Linked DNA regions of Homo sapiens. The protein of the gene in region 2 interacts with the protein of the main gene of each other region in a biochemical or structural test. Each region holds a gene or a part of one and is shown on either strand. Other genes may lie near its edges.

The links.
Region 1: the proteins of RGS18 (region 2) and GNAQ form a complex in vitro, tested with the Homo sapiens proteins (one study listed by BioGRID).

What each region holds. Positions count from the first base shown.
Region 1 is NC_000009.12:77,720,710-77,728,383, forward strand, and holds part of GNAQ (guanine nucleotide-binding protein G(q) subunit alpha), read right to left. Parts: intron 805-7,674; coding exon 614-804; 3' UTR 1-613.
Region 2 is NC_000001.11:192,175,281-192,182,954, reverse strand, and holds part of RGS18 (regulator of G-protein signaling 18), read right to left. Parts: intron 1,664-7,674; coding exon 1,497-1,663; intron 1-1,496. UniProt on the Homo sapiens protein: Inhibits signal transduction by increasing the GTPase activity of G protein alpha subunits thereby driving them into their inactive GDP-bound form. Binds to G(i) alpha-1, G(i) alpha-2, G(i) alpha-3 and G(q) alpha.

The DNA.
Region 1 (7,674 bases), on a different chromosome or scaffold from region 2:
CAGTATATTCTATTAAAAAAGAAACTATGTGTGTATCCAAAGCAACACATTTAAAACCGTAAGTATTAATACATATAATCCTTCAGCAAAAACTACAAACTTAAATTAAGCTGATGATGGCTTAAATCGAACGATGTGTCCTGACTGTATCATTTGAGAGAAAAACTTGACCAAGAATGGAACTAGGATAAAGGCCATTGTAACCTGGGAAAAACATCAGGAGGGAGGTATGAATTAGCGGGGGAAGAAAAAAGGGAAATCAGCTTTGTTTTGCTCCATAGAAAAGAAAAAGAGAGAGAGACAGAAAGAAACAAGTCTTATCTTTGTGAGTGCATGACTGAGAATTTAAAATACACTGAGTCACAAGGTTTTGCCTAAAAAAAAGATAGAGAGGAAATGTGCTGGGACTGTACTTCAGCATCCTCTGTTTTTCCTCTGAATAGTTTAAATAAAATCATAATATTTACTACAAACTCTGTGGACACGCTCACACAGAGTCCAGGACGGCAATAAATTAGTATTATGCAAATTGTTTTCCACAGAAATACAGTCCCTCTTGTGTATCTTCAATAGCCCACCAGGGAAGGGCAGGGCGGGTGTCTAGGAGGCACAATTAGACCAGATTGTACTCCTTCAGGTTCAACTGGAGGATGGTGTCCTTGACGGCAGCAAAGACAAAGCGGATATTCTCGGTGTCTGTGGCGCACGTGAAGTGGGAGTAGATAATTTTGTCACTGTCTGGGTTCAGGTCCACGAACATCTTCAGAATGAATTCTCGGGCTGCCTGGGCATCTCTCTGGGGTCCTTTCGGCCAAGAGACAAGAGGGACACTTTGTTACCTAATCTGCTAATGTATTCAATCATCATTGGTTCAATAAATACTGTGTCATTGCTCATGAAGCCTACATCTGCACTGCAGATTTGATCTGTTATAATCATTTTCCCTAACACTGCTATGTCTGACCATCCATCCACCCACCCAGGCACCCACCCATTCACAAAATGTGGATAGGTGAAAGCAGACAGATGACTTGAAAGCCAAGGCTAAGTTTATTTCTTAGCTTGGCCTTCACTCTGATTCCCTGAGTGATTGGGAGCCACTGTAGGCTCTTCATCAGGGGAGTGATAGCTTACTTCTGTTCAACTGAGTTAAGTATGCTTGTTTCAGCTATATAATAAGTGTGCACAAAGATACAGCTGCCTCGGGCTCTCCTGTCAATCTGTCCTCCAAACGACCCAATATTATGGATCATTTTACATCTTCCAGACTGACATCTCTCTTAGAACACCTGTTTGTAAGGTCAGGTCTATCTACAATGGGCCTCTGTAACAGTCTCACTTCCATAGATTTCTGGTATTTCTGAGCACACTACATTTGTGTAGCATTCAGTTCATGTGTGATGATAAAACAATTGGTTTATATTTTCTTTTCTTTTTTTTTTTTTGAGATGGAGTCTCATTCTGTTGCCCAGGTAAGAGTGCAGTGATAAGATCTCAGCTCACTGCAACCTCTGCCTCCCAGGTTCAAGCGATTCTCTTGCCTCAGCCTCCTGAGCAGCTGGGATTACTGGTGCCTGCCATCATGCTTGGCTAATTTTTATATTTTTAGTAGAGACAAGGTTTTGCCATGTTGGCCAGGCTGTTCTCAAACTCCTAATCTCAGGTGATCCACCCGCCTTGGCCTCCCAAAGTGCTGGGATTACAGGTGTGAGCCACTGTGCCCAACCTATATTTTCTTACATTGATTTAAGAAGGAGTCTCTTATGTACCAAGAATTCTCCTAGATGCTTTGAAAAAGGATTGTGACATATCTAGCAAGATAAACTAAAAATGTAATTTTGCAATGGATTCTTAGATATGACACCACAGCACAGGTCATATTTTTCACAAAAGAAAAAATAAATTGGACTTCATCAAAATTAAAAACTTTATGTATCTAAGGACTTTTTTTTTTTTTTTTTTTTTGAGACAGGGTCTTGCTCTGCTACCCAGGCTACAGTGTAGTGGAATGATCATGGCTCACTGCAGCCTCAACCTTCTGGGTTCAAGTGATCCTCTTGCCTCAGCCTCCTGAATAGCTGAAACTATAGGTGCCACCAAGCCTGGCTAATTTTTAAACTTTTTGTAAAGATGGGGGTATCACTATGTTGTCTTGAACTTCTGGCCTCAAGCAGTCCTCCCACTTCAGCCTCCCAAAGTGCTGGGATTATAAGCATGAGCTACCACACCTGGCCAAGGCCATTATTAAGAAAGTGAAAAGCCAATCTATAGAATGGGAGAAAATATTTACAAATCATGTCATCTGATAGGCGTTTAGTGTCCAGAATATATAAAGAGCTCCTACAATTCAATAACAAAAAACCCAATTAAAAAATAGGCAAAAGACTTGAACAGACATTTTTCTAAAGAAGATATACAAATGGTCAATAAGCACAGGAAAAGATGCTCAATAATGGTAATCATTTAGAAAAATGCATATCAAAACCACAGTGACAGACCTCTCCACATCTACTAGCATGGCTATAAAATTAACAAGGGTTTGGGAAAATATGGAGAGATTTGTACTCTTGTGCACTGTTGGGAATGTACAAAGGTGCAGCTGCTGTGAAAACAGTTTGGTGGTTCCTCAAAAAGCTAAACATAGAATAACCATATGACCGACCCTGCTAGTCTACTCCAATGTATATATCTAAAGGAATTGAGAGCAGGGGCTCTGATAGACACTTGATCTTAGTCAAAAGGGCAAGAAGCAATGTACATCAATTTTAATAGCAGCATTGTTAACAACAGCTAAAAGGCGAAAACAATCCAAGTGTCCATCAACAGATACATGGAGAAACAAAACCAAACCAAACAGAATATCAGAATATCAGAAACAAAAAGAATATTATTCAGCCATAAAAAAGAGTAAAGCTCTGACAGATGCTGTAATATGCATGAACTGTGAGAACATTATAATAAATAAACCCAACATAAAATAACAAATATTGTATGCTTGCACACATATGACGTACTTAGAATTGGTAAACTCATAAAGACAGAAAGTAGATTAGAGGTTTCCAAGGGTTAGGGGGAGGAAGGAAATGGGGTGTTGCTGCTTAATTGGGGTGGTGAAAATATTTTGAAAATACTGGTGATGGCTGCACAGTATTGTGAGTGTAATTAATGCCTTTTATGAATTGTGCACTTAAAAATGTTAAAATGGCAAATTTTATAATTAAAAAAAGTACTATATCAAAACCCACTGAATTGTACACTTTAAATAAGTGAATTACATGGTATATAAATAATCTCAATAAAGCTGTTTTAAAAGTGTATTTAATAGGTACCGATAGATATATTAACTTAAAACTTACTGTAAATAACATCAAAACACCATCACCTTTCAAGTATTGGATACGTATCATATATCTGTCTTTGTGTTGCTTTATATATGCATTTCCTCCTATTTTTTCAAGTTAGTTCTATACCAAGCAATAAGAAACTTTTTTTTTTCCTTGAGACAGAGTTTCACTGTGTTGCCCAGGCTGGAGTGCAGTGCCATGATCTTGGCTCACTGCAACCTCCACCTCCTGGGTTCAAGCGAAATCTCCTGCCTCAGCCTCGTGGGTAGCTGGGACTACAGGCGTGCACCACCATGCCCAGCTAATTTTTGTATTTTTAGAAGAGAAGAGACAGGGTTTTGCCATGTTGACCAGGCTGGTCTTCAACTCCTGGCCTCAAGGGATCCGCCCACCTTGGCCTCCCAAAGTGCTGAGATTACAGGCGTGAGCCACCACACCCAGCAGGTTTTTTTCTATCATCAATATTCTTGTTACCTACTAGTAGGGATAAAGAGATCTTGCAGAACTCTATTGAGGGCTTGACCACCATTTCTAACAAAATGCACCCTGAGCTTCAGACAGCTGACTTGAATTATTCTCAAACCAACCTTTTTATAAATTGGAGATTACTCCAATAAACTTATATCTGATAATGCCAGAAGATGGGAGGAAAGAATTATAAAAACAAATAGACTATCCTCATTTGTACAATTTAAAAAAGTAATGTTGAATTTTTGATGTAGGTGCCCAGAATTCAATTTTTTTAATGACTAAGAGGGCTGGCATCATATTTAATAGATAAAAAGTACAATTAAAAACAATATGTAAAGTATATATACAAGCAAATATATATATAATTAATGTTCCATCTTTTTCAATGTACTATTAACTCCAGAGAAGTAATAAAAACTATTCAAAACCAGAAAGTAACAGATTACCAGAGCTGGAGAAGTCTCTCATTTCATAAAAAGAACATTATATTTCTGGCTTCTGAATGAACTTCTGTATGATTTTGTACTTACTCTATTTGGGAAGGAAGGGACTATACCTTTTTTTTTTCTTTTTTATTTACCCTACAGAATATAAGAACTAGATCCAAGTTCACTGAAGTGTACTTGAAAAGTGTTATGTTTTTAAGCATAAATTGTTATCTGAATAAACATACACTACAAAGAACTCATTACAGCCATCACAGCAGGAGCAGAATTCCACAGTCTCTATGAACAATCTTGCAATTCAAGTCCATGTGGAAAGGGTAATTTCCTTTCTTGAAGAGAAATACAGAAATGGCATTCATTATGATTAAGACCTTGTAAGTATAGAAATGTGGAAGTGTGAAATTTATAATACTATAAACATGCTTATTACAAAAACATCACTGCAGAGTGGGCCTCAATTTTTTCAGTGTTTGCTCATCTTACAAGGGCTTGGAGTTTCACGTAATGACTGCTGCGCTGGCTTTGTAATAACAAAATCAATGTCTTTTTTCTTTTTCTGTGGCCAAGTTTCCTCTGTGCATTATATGTATACTGGGGTAAGGTAACAGTAAAAAAAAAAAAAAAAAAAAAAAAAAGTCTTCAGATTTCAGAATATTCACAATGGGCACATGCTGGAAGGAAAATGCTTGTAGTGGTGGGGAATCTGGGGAAATTATTGGAGAAAGGAGGTACGTGAAGAGATTAGGAAGATGGTGCAGAGATCAAAAAACAGCACTGCAAGCACTGATCACAAACTAAGTCTTTTATTGCGGAAAAATCAGCAACTGTGAAGTGTGGCTAGGTATGCTGCATCTGAGAAGTTTGAATGAACCCCTCAGAAGGGTTCACCTCCGTGGGCACCATGCTCTATCTGTTCTGCATCCTCCCTTATGCAAGCACATCATGAAAACGTGCCAGCCCACAAGATGGGGTGTTGTGTATGGTGTGGCAATTTCTCACACGCTGATTCTTACCAAGTTCCAAGAAAAATTAAGAAGAACCTCGAGTGTGTGTGTGTGTGTGGCAGGCAAGCGTGTTTAGATCTAAGCCAGATGTTTCATGCCTACTGTATTCAGGTAGATGTGTTTGAAGCTTGAGGTGGGAAAGCAAGTTAACTACCCACACAGTCACTTCCTTCCATAGTTTTCTGAGCAACACTGAGAAGTGCAGTCTCAGGCATTGATGATTTGTTTCCGGGCTAGTGCAAATTAAAAGGAGTGAAAGAGAAAACACTGTTTAGACTGAGAAAGTGTTTTTCAAAGAACAGCAAAGCACAAAGGAAAATGTACTTGAAGAGAGGATATGAACACAATGCTAACAAAAGGTACCATTTCTAACATCTGGTGACATCCACAAATGTTTATATTTTCAATTCACCAACCTTCAGGATCTTACATGTATTTGAGAAGGGAACTTCAATTCATTTAACATGTAACATTTCCCTTTCATGAGCCAGGACTGTACCACATTCCATGTGGGATGAAAAGATGACTAAACCTCCATCCCTGATGTGTTTGTATCATCATAGAAAGCTATGAAGCTAAATTTAATCTTGGTTTTTAAAGTAATTACTTTTCTGAGGAAGCTTTTAGTAAGTACAAAAACACTGTGGAATGATATCCATCCTGGATATCATATGTTGACAATGTAATTTTAAAAATAGTCTCTTCTCTTGTTGTTATATCACCTCTATGGTAGATACTTTTGGGTTTCTGCTATGTGATATATGTATGATTCCATTCAATTCTTTCTTGCCCAGGGATAAACTGAGTAGCTAAATAAATTTGTCTGAGGCAACACAGACAGTGAGTGGCAAAGTGGAACTTTTCAGAGCTTGTGCTCTTAACTATCTAGACCACGGCTTGGCAAACTTTCTCTGTAAAGGGCCACAGAGTAATTGAGGCTTTGCAAACAATTCTATCTCTGTCACAATTATCCAATTCTGCTGTTATGGTGTGAAAGCAGCCATAGACAGTGTATAATGAATGGGTGTGGCTATGTCTCAATAAAACTTTATTCATAAAACCAGGTGGTGGGCCATAAGGGAGAGATGTGATTATCTTGCCAAATAAATAAACTTTTTTTTTTTTTTTTTTGAGACAGGGTCTCCCATCACCCAGGCAGGAGTATAGTGGCAGGATCATGGCTCATTGCAGTCTTGACCTCTTGCCAACTCCTGCCTCATTTTTTATAGATAGAGGTCTCGTTACATTGCCCAGGCTGGGCTTGAACTCCTGTGCTCAAGTGATCCTCTCACCTCAGTCTCCCAAAGTGCTGGGATTACAGGTGTGAATCACCACACCTGGCCACATAGACTCTTATAGGGCAGCAGTCGTGACTCTCACTTGTTTTACATAGTGGCTACATGTGGATGCATTTTGTTACCAATCACCAAGTGTTCAAGTGTTTCTCAGAATGGGTTGGGTGTCTAGTTGTCCAGGATTTCACAGTCTAGTTGGGGAGGGTAAGATCCTTTTCTAAGAACAAAGCAAATAATGCAGAGCCATAGGAGTAGTGAAGTGGATGCTATAGATTCTAAGTGCTGCACAAAGAGCTTAACACTGGGTTACTATTAGTAATGGTGGTGGGACTTCATTGGGCTATGAAGTTTCAAAAAAGGAAGTATTTCCTGAGTATTCATAAGTGTCCTACGTGTCAGGCATCATGCTAAACGTACACATATGTTATATACTACAGTGCACAAAACAATCCTATGAGTTTGGTCGTAAGGCCCAGAAAAATCAAGTGACTTGATGGTAGTTCTACAAATAGGAAGTGTCAGAACTGGGATCTCAACCTTGATAGACTGATTTCAGTGGTGGGCTCTTAACTTCAAAATTGTGTTCCTCCCCAGAGAGAGGAGAGGCAGAGGTGGACGGTAACCAAATGAAAGGGAGACACAGAGGGGACTATAAGAGTTAATACACAATTGGTCAAAACTACTGGATTGTTCCTTTTTCTGATCTGCTATTTCAAAGCAGATGAGTTTCTTTTCTTTTTTTTTTAGACAGAGTCTTGCTCTGTTGCCAGGCTGGAGTGCAGTGGCGCGATCTTGGCTCACTGCAACCTCCGCCTCCCGGGTTCAAGCAATTCTCCTGCCTCAGCCTCCCGAGAAGCTGGGACTACAGGTGCCTGCCACCACGCCCAGCTAATTTTTATATTTTTAGTAGAAACGGGGTTTCACCATGTTGACCAGGATGGTCTCGATCGCTTGACCTCGTGATCCGCCTGCCTCGGCCTCCCAAAGTGCTGGGATTACAGGCGCTCGCCACTGTGCCCAGCCATGAGTTTCTTTTTCTATGACTTTTAGCATTGTTAAGGAATGCAATGTTTTGTGTCACTAAAAGACAGGGCAAACAAGAATTCCTACTGTA
Region 2 (7,674 bases):
CCTAGTTAGATTTACCTCATCTCTCTATTGTAAGATTTTTCTTTTAACCTGTCTTTAAAGTATCCCTAAAGCAAACAAAACTCCGTATAAATAGATGAGCCAAAATTAAATTGGTATATGATGCAAACTTCTTGATGTCCCTTGACTTCATCACTTATAAAAATCTTTAGTTTCTATGAGAGGTTGCTTGTGCGAAAGTGATTAATATGAATAAGTGAATGAATCTAAATGTTGCAATTTATCATATTCACTCTTAGTCTAGAATGAAAATAGCTCTGAAAAGTGACTCTAATTGTACTTTTCCTTCTGTGATAGTATCTTACAATGTCTTCCATTTGTATGGATAAATATTCATAAATAATTATCTTCCCTCCAGCAACATCATGAACATTCTGGTAGAATGTATGAGGGTACAAATTTGATAAAGACAGATTATCTAAAAAATTTAGCTCTGAATAGACATTTCTCAAAAAAAGACATAAAGTGCCATTTTGGACAAAATGTTCAACATCATTACCCATCAGGGATATGCACGTAGAAACCATAATGAGATACCAACTCACTTCGGTTAGAATGGCTTTTAATGAAAAAGACAAAAAATAACAAATGTTGGTGAGGATGTGGAGAAAGGGAAACTCATGCATTGTTGGTGGGCATGTAAGGTAGTGCAGCCATTATAGAAAATAGTATAAGGGTTCCTCAAAAATTAAAAATAAAACTATCATACGATCCAGCCATTCTACGTCTAGGTATATATCTAAAGGAATTGAAATCAGCATGTTAAAGAGATATCTACACTCCCATGTTTATTGCAGCATTATTCACAGTATCCAAGAGATGGACTCATCCTAAATGTCCATCAAAGGATGAATGTATAAAGAAAATGTGGTACATATGGAACACTATTGAGTTATTAAAAAACAAAGAAACTCAGTCATCTGTGGCAATGTGAATGAACCTGGAGGACATTATGTTAAGTGAAATAAGCCAGGCACACAAAAATAAATACTACATGATCTGACTTGTATGTGGAATCTAATAAAGTTGCTCACATAGAAGTAGAGAGCAGAATAGTGGTTACCAAGGGCTAGGTAAGGTAGGAAGGATGGGAGGATGGAGAAAGGATGGATCAACAGGTACAGAGATAGATAGGAAGAATAAGTTCTGGTGTTATATTACCTAATAGGTGATTATAGTGAATAATAATACATGGTATATTTCAAGATTGCTAGAAAAGAACATATTGAATATTATCACCACAAAGAAATGATAAATGTTTAATTTGATGAATATGCTAACTCTGATTTTATCATTATACAATGCATACATATATTAAAACATCACACTGTATGTCATTAACATGTGTAATTATTACATGTCAATTATAAATGAAATTAATAAAAATAAGTTGGAAAAATATAATTCACAATTTAAAAATAAAATTATTAAAAAATTTTGAAAGCAATTATGCATTTTTACAGTTATCTTTACTGTACCTCTTTTGGGGCATCAGTCTGTATAAATTTCTCATATATTGCTTTTGCTTTAAGGTGAATTTGTTGAGGTCCCTTGCTTTTCTTGAAATCTTCACAGGCTATCCAAAATTCAATATTTTCTTCACTGAATTCAGTTTTAAGAAATCTGGTAAAAGCCTCTAGTCCATCTATCAAGAAAATAAATAATATAACTATAAAATGGTATTAATGTTGGAAACATTTACTGATTGATAATAAAACATAATTGCAAATATTAACAGAAAACCTACATCTTCCCTCTAATGCAGCACCGCAGCACACATCTTGCACAATATACCTGAGAGACCCTCATGTCGTTTTCACAACTATAAAAGGAAAGTATTATTCCCACTGAAATAAGGCCAGTATCTCACTCAGGCTTAAGTTTGACTTTAGGCCTAAGAGTAAGAGGGACCCCCTACGGTGGACCTCACTTTATGTCTCTTTTATCCGTTCCCCTCGCAGAGTGTGAGGGGTGATTCCACAGAGTCAAGAAGCCATTACAGTTGGAACGGATCCTACTTCTACACCATGCCTTTGGTATTCAGGATCTTGAGGTTCCCTTACTAAAAGCTCTATGCTTCCAGCATTTACACAGCCTTTTCTCCAAGTCCATCTACCAAAAACACACTGACTCACTGGTATTTATACCCATAGGCCCGAGTATGAACAAGGCTTCAATTTGCAGGCTGGAGTGTGTACTCAAATGTGCAAAGAGCTGCTCACAGTGTGAAACCAAACCATGGGGGAAGAGAAAAAGGTGGTAGGTCATGTTTATAGAGTGGAAACGTTAAGTGTCTGAAAATTTTAAATTCAAACATAATCTTCCAAGTGGCTTACAAAGTATATTTGTCAAAGCAGAAGGCTAGCATATATATTTTAAAGTTATTAGTTTCTATAGCTCCTAAGCATTTAGACATACAGCATGGGACCTCTTTTTCACTTTTTGTCTTGCCCCATAAATGTTAGGGGCAGGTATTAAGTCTTGTGGAAGACTGTCTGGGCTCAAATTAGTGTTCATTTAGTTACTATGTGGCCCTGAGCATATTACCTTTTCTTTCTGTGTCTTAGTTTTTCAATATTTAAAATTAAGATAATAATGATCCCTACCTGGTAGGGCTGTTGAGAGAATTAAATGTGTTAAAATACACCAAGTGTTTGGAACAGTAACTGGGACATATTAAAAACTCCATAAGGGTTTTAGTAATGGTGGTTGTGATGATGATGGTGATCTTGATAATTTTTATTTAAGGCTCACTAAGATGACATTTACATAACTAAAAAAGTGGCAGACTTTGGATTCAACCTTAAGACAATGTGACTTCAAAACTAGACAATGTGACTTCAAAAACGCTCTTTCAACTATCTTTTTTAACTCTACTTATTTTTAAGCCTTGTAAAAGTTAAACTTTTTTATTTTGAGAAAATTATAGATTTACATGAACTCGTAGGAAGTTCCTAGGAGAGACCCCGTGTACTCTTTATCCAGTTTTCGCCAGTGTAACAACTTGGAAAACTACAGTGAAATATCACAGCTAGGATAGTGACATTAATTAATATAATCAAGATACAGAAAGTTACAAGTGTAACACATGTTGCCCTTTTACAGCCACATTTACATCTCCCCACATGTAATTTTTTTTAACTCCAGGGAACCACTAATCTGGTCTCCATTGCTATAATTTTGTCAATTCAAGAATGTTATATAAATTAAATCATGTAGTATATGTTGTTTTAGATGTTTCTATTTTCCACACAGCCTGATTCTCTGGAGATTTATTCAGGTTGATGAATGTATCAATGGTTTGTTTCTCTTTGTTGCTGTATTATATTCCATGATATGAATATACTATCATTTGTTTAACCATTCTGCCATTGAAGGAAACATGGGTTATTTCTTTTTTTTTCAGTTATTACAAATAAATCTGCTATAAACATTTGTGTATAGTTTTATAAAATGTTCACAAGTCTTTATTTATCTGGAATAAATTCCAAGGAGTGAAATTGCTTGGGTGTATGGTAGTTGCACTATAGAAATGTTGAGGGAAGGGAAATATGTTCCTAATGGATTTTTCAGATAAACTTTCTCAGAATAAATCACATTTGAGTTGGATTTAAATGAGTTTTAGCAATCTTTCTTTAGATTCACTCTCACTCTCTAGTTATAGCCCATTTCTCTTTCTGCTCTCCTTATGTAAGTTATTGCATAAGGAAATATCATGAGTCCCATCTGGACTTCCCACTTGGCAGCATCTGATAATACTGACCCCCTCCTTTTTCAAATACTCTTCCACATAGGATTGTAGGATGGCATATCTCCTAGTTCATACTGTGTGATTGTTTGTTTGTGTGTTGTCTGTTTAGGTTTAACTCCCTCTCTTCCCCATTAAATGTGCTATTTGCTAAAATTCTGTCCTTTGCTTTCTCCTTTTCCTTCTTCTTTCCTTTATCTTCCCTATTTGCCCATCTTCTCTCTTGACATTTTTCCTGAACTCCTTTTTTCTGAACTTCAACTGTACTTTATGCATATTGTTAATACCTGTAGACAAAATGAGGCATTAGAAACAATTCTGAAAAACAAAGTTTCTTTACATGTTGATATCATTAAAATATTTTAATCTTCTTACAAGAAATTATTTTTAAAATCATAACTTCAAATATTCCTGTAGCTACTGACATATCTTTTCTCCTTACAGATATAAAATCTTTGATTAAGTTTTCTACACTTAGTCTCTTAATCCCCTCTATCTCATTTACTTTCCAACACACAAAAATGTGGTTTCCATTCAACACTTTACTTAAATTATTTTTGCCAAATTGACTTAATGTTATAGTTAGTGAACATTTTTTTTCCATCCATATGTTATTTCATCTCTCCACAACAGCAGGCACGGTAGAGAATTGCCTGTAATTCTCCTCAATGGCAGCTAAACTCCAGAGTTTCCTATTACACCTCTGACTATTGCATCCCCAAATCCTTCTCAGTTTATCCTTCTTCATCTTTCCCTTAAACTCATTTCCTGAAAAATTACTTCAACACCCAAATACGATCAATATGCAGATGATTCTTAGAACTTATCTCAAGCCTTTTTCCTGAGCTCCAAGTTCATACCAACCAACATGTGAAAAACATCATTGAATTGACCACTGAATTAGTCATATGAATGGTACATTTATCATCTTTACCCAAAACCTTCCCTGCATACATTTCCCATTTAATGACGCTATCCACTCAGGGATATAAACGGGAAACCTGGCATTTATTCTCAGGGATATTTGATTTTCCTCTTATCTCACACATAGCTGATAATCAAATCTTAAAAAAAAATTCCCCTTTCATATATCCTACATCTGTCTTTTTATTTTTGTGCCATCTGTAATTACTTTTATTTAGACCGGAACTATCTCTCACACAAATTATTATAAAAACCTCCTAACTGGTGACCCTGAATTTAGGTTTTCCTTGTCTCTTTCTCCATCCTCCAAGACTATTATCCACATTCTCATCAGTAATATCTTGCTGCAGTACAAATTTTATTATGATTCTTCACCGTTTAAAATTTCCCAATAGCGTTCATCTCTTCCTACTATGTTTTTACACTGATTTAAGCTCCACTCACAGAGAAACACGTATAGTTCCATTCGTGTGCCATGTTCCTGAATCTCTTAGTTTTAGCTCCTGTTGAGAATACTTTTCCCTTCCTATTCTAAATCCATAAAGCAATTTTATTAATCTAACCCATACAGCCTATATTCATTGAGGTTGAAATTACACTTCATCTTGTCCGGAAAGACTTCACCAATCTCTAAAGAACGAGTTGGGTGTCCTTCATATATGGCCTTCTACTGTGCCGGGTAAACTTAAAATATTGTACTGCAGTTGCCTGCTAACTTTTGTTTTCCAGGCTACACTGTAACATATATAAGACGAAGACCCTTGTCTAACTTGTCACCAAATTTCCAGTACCCAACATGAGAAATAACTCAATAATTATTTAATAATACTAAAATAAATTATCAACAAATAATTGAATTAATTATAAAAATACAGAATTATATTAAAAAAACATGAAACACTTCTAGGAAATATTTTGTGTACTAAATGAAATATCAGACCTATCATATTTACAAGAGATATGGACAATCAGAGCTGGTAACATAAAAAAGCAAAAAAAAAATCCACAAAATTGTGTCCTATTGTGAATATGGACAAAAATATGTAGTTAAAAATATACTAATTTATTTAAAAAGTTAATTCTTAGCTTGATGACATTAAACATTTAATTAATATTCTAGTTTCATGCTTGGCAAGCAAAATTTTTAATACATTTTGGATGCTTCTTTGGTCATATGAAAAGGTAGAGAAATGGCTATCAGTGACAGTTTTATTTCTGAATCTGTATTATTAGTTTGGTATTTAACCCCATGAGTTTTGCCAATGTGAGCCTTCTACTGAGAGTTGGGTCCTTCCTGGCATGCTAACAAGATGACAGCATCAATTTTGAGAACGTGTGAAGCTAGAGTTTGTGGTAAATGCCAGTCTATATGACTTTGGACAAGCTCACAAACATTTCTGGAGGTACACTGCTCTCTGTTGGATATCACTATGAGTTATTGAAACATATAATGTATTCCTTACTTTGTTCAACTATTTTATTAAATACTTTTGTTTGCATCCTGAACTCCCCACTGAATAACTCATTAATTCATTGAAACAATATTGATCACATGCTGTGTTCCAGACACTGGTCTAGGTACCAGAGACCAGCAATTTTAGAAGTGGACAAAGCCCTTGATTTGATATTTAATCTATAGAGCACTACCTTAAATAAAAGAACATATTACTACTAAACTATTAAGAAGAGGAGGGTCATTACAAAGTAATGGGAACCAGGCTTGTCCTCCTACCACAAATAACTATAAAACTAGAAAAAATATTGAGGCAGTAGTTTCCAAGCAGAATACAACTGGCAACAGATGAGAAGAAAAACACATGAAGTGAGTGCTAGGTTTGCTCTGGCTTTCTACCTGGGGGCATTTTTAAGACTGGTACGCATGAAGATGGAGGCTAACCATAGTAAGAAGTCTTGCTGAATTGAGGAGGCAGAGATAAGAGTTTGGGCATTATGATGTATTTGGAATTTGTGGGTCAGGCTACTGAAAAAAGGAAACATGCAGAAGGGTGTGGGACAGTTTGAGTGACCTTGTACTAACTTGTTCTCTCTTTTTTGTCACTTGTGTTTCTCAAAAATAAATGTACAATGTGCTGACAATGCAACATCCTGAGATAAGAGAAATTGACCAGAATAACCTTGCTGTGTTCCTTTGCCACCCCAAAATAGGATCTTCTTTGACACTTTAGCCCAGGGATACCTGTATTCCCTCGGACATAAAAACCAGGACAGGCTGCTTTCTGGGATCCCTCGGCTGCCATGCAATTGGAACATCATAGACAAAATTTAATTCACTCTTAGCAGCTTTCCTGAGTGTTGAGGGGGAAGCTCATTATGAATACTAGGCTTCTATTATCCCTTGGTGCCTATTTGCAAGTACTAAAGTTGCTTTGCTTAACTAGTTGTATCAGTGTTCTATCATAGTGGATTTGTGCAAGTAATCAAAATTGTAGCCCAAGACATAGGGGGCTTAATTGGTAACCAGTGCAGAGTGAATCTGCTTTATAAGGGGACCCAGAAGCCTCCATGCAGTTTTCCTGCAGAGCCTTGACTGAGGGCTAAGCTGCACATGAGCAGGGCAAATTTTGTGAAGTCTAGAAGAAGACAGATGCTATGGGACTGAGGTTAATGGAGATAGGAGAGTTTTGATAGGTTTGGATGACTTTGGATTTCTGGCTCAGCCGTAGAAGAGATACCAAAGAAAGTTCGTGTTTCTGGTATAAACACTATGTCTTGTCCTACTACTAAGAAAGGTCTTGTCCTCATACTAAGACAATTCTGAGATATACCAGCCTTAAAGGATCAAGCTGATCAGAAAAAAAATCAAGAGGATACAACAGTGATTTAATTCACTTCCAGAAAAATGATTCAATACTCTATAAGGGAAGACCACATAATTTAGACTCCTATGTCTTCCTCCATGCTCACATACAAAAAAAAAATTAGTGATATAAGGAAATTTTCATGACTTATTATCAATATTTTGT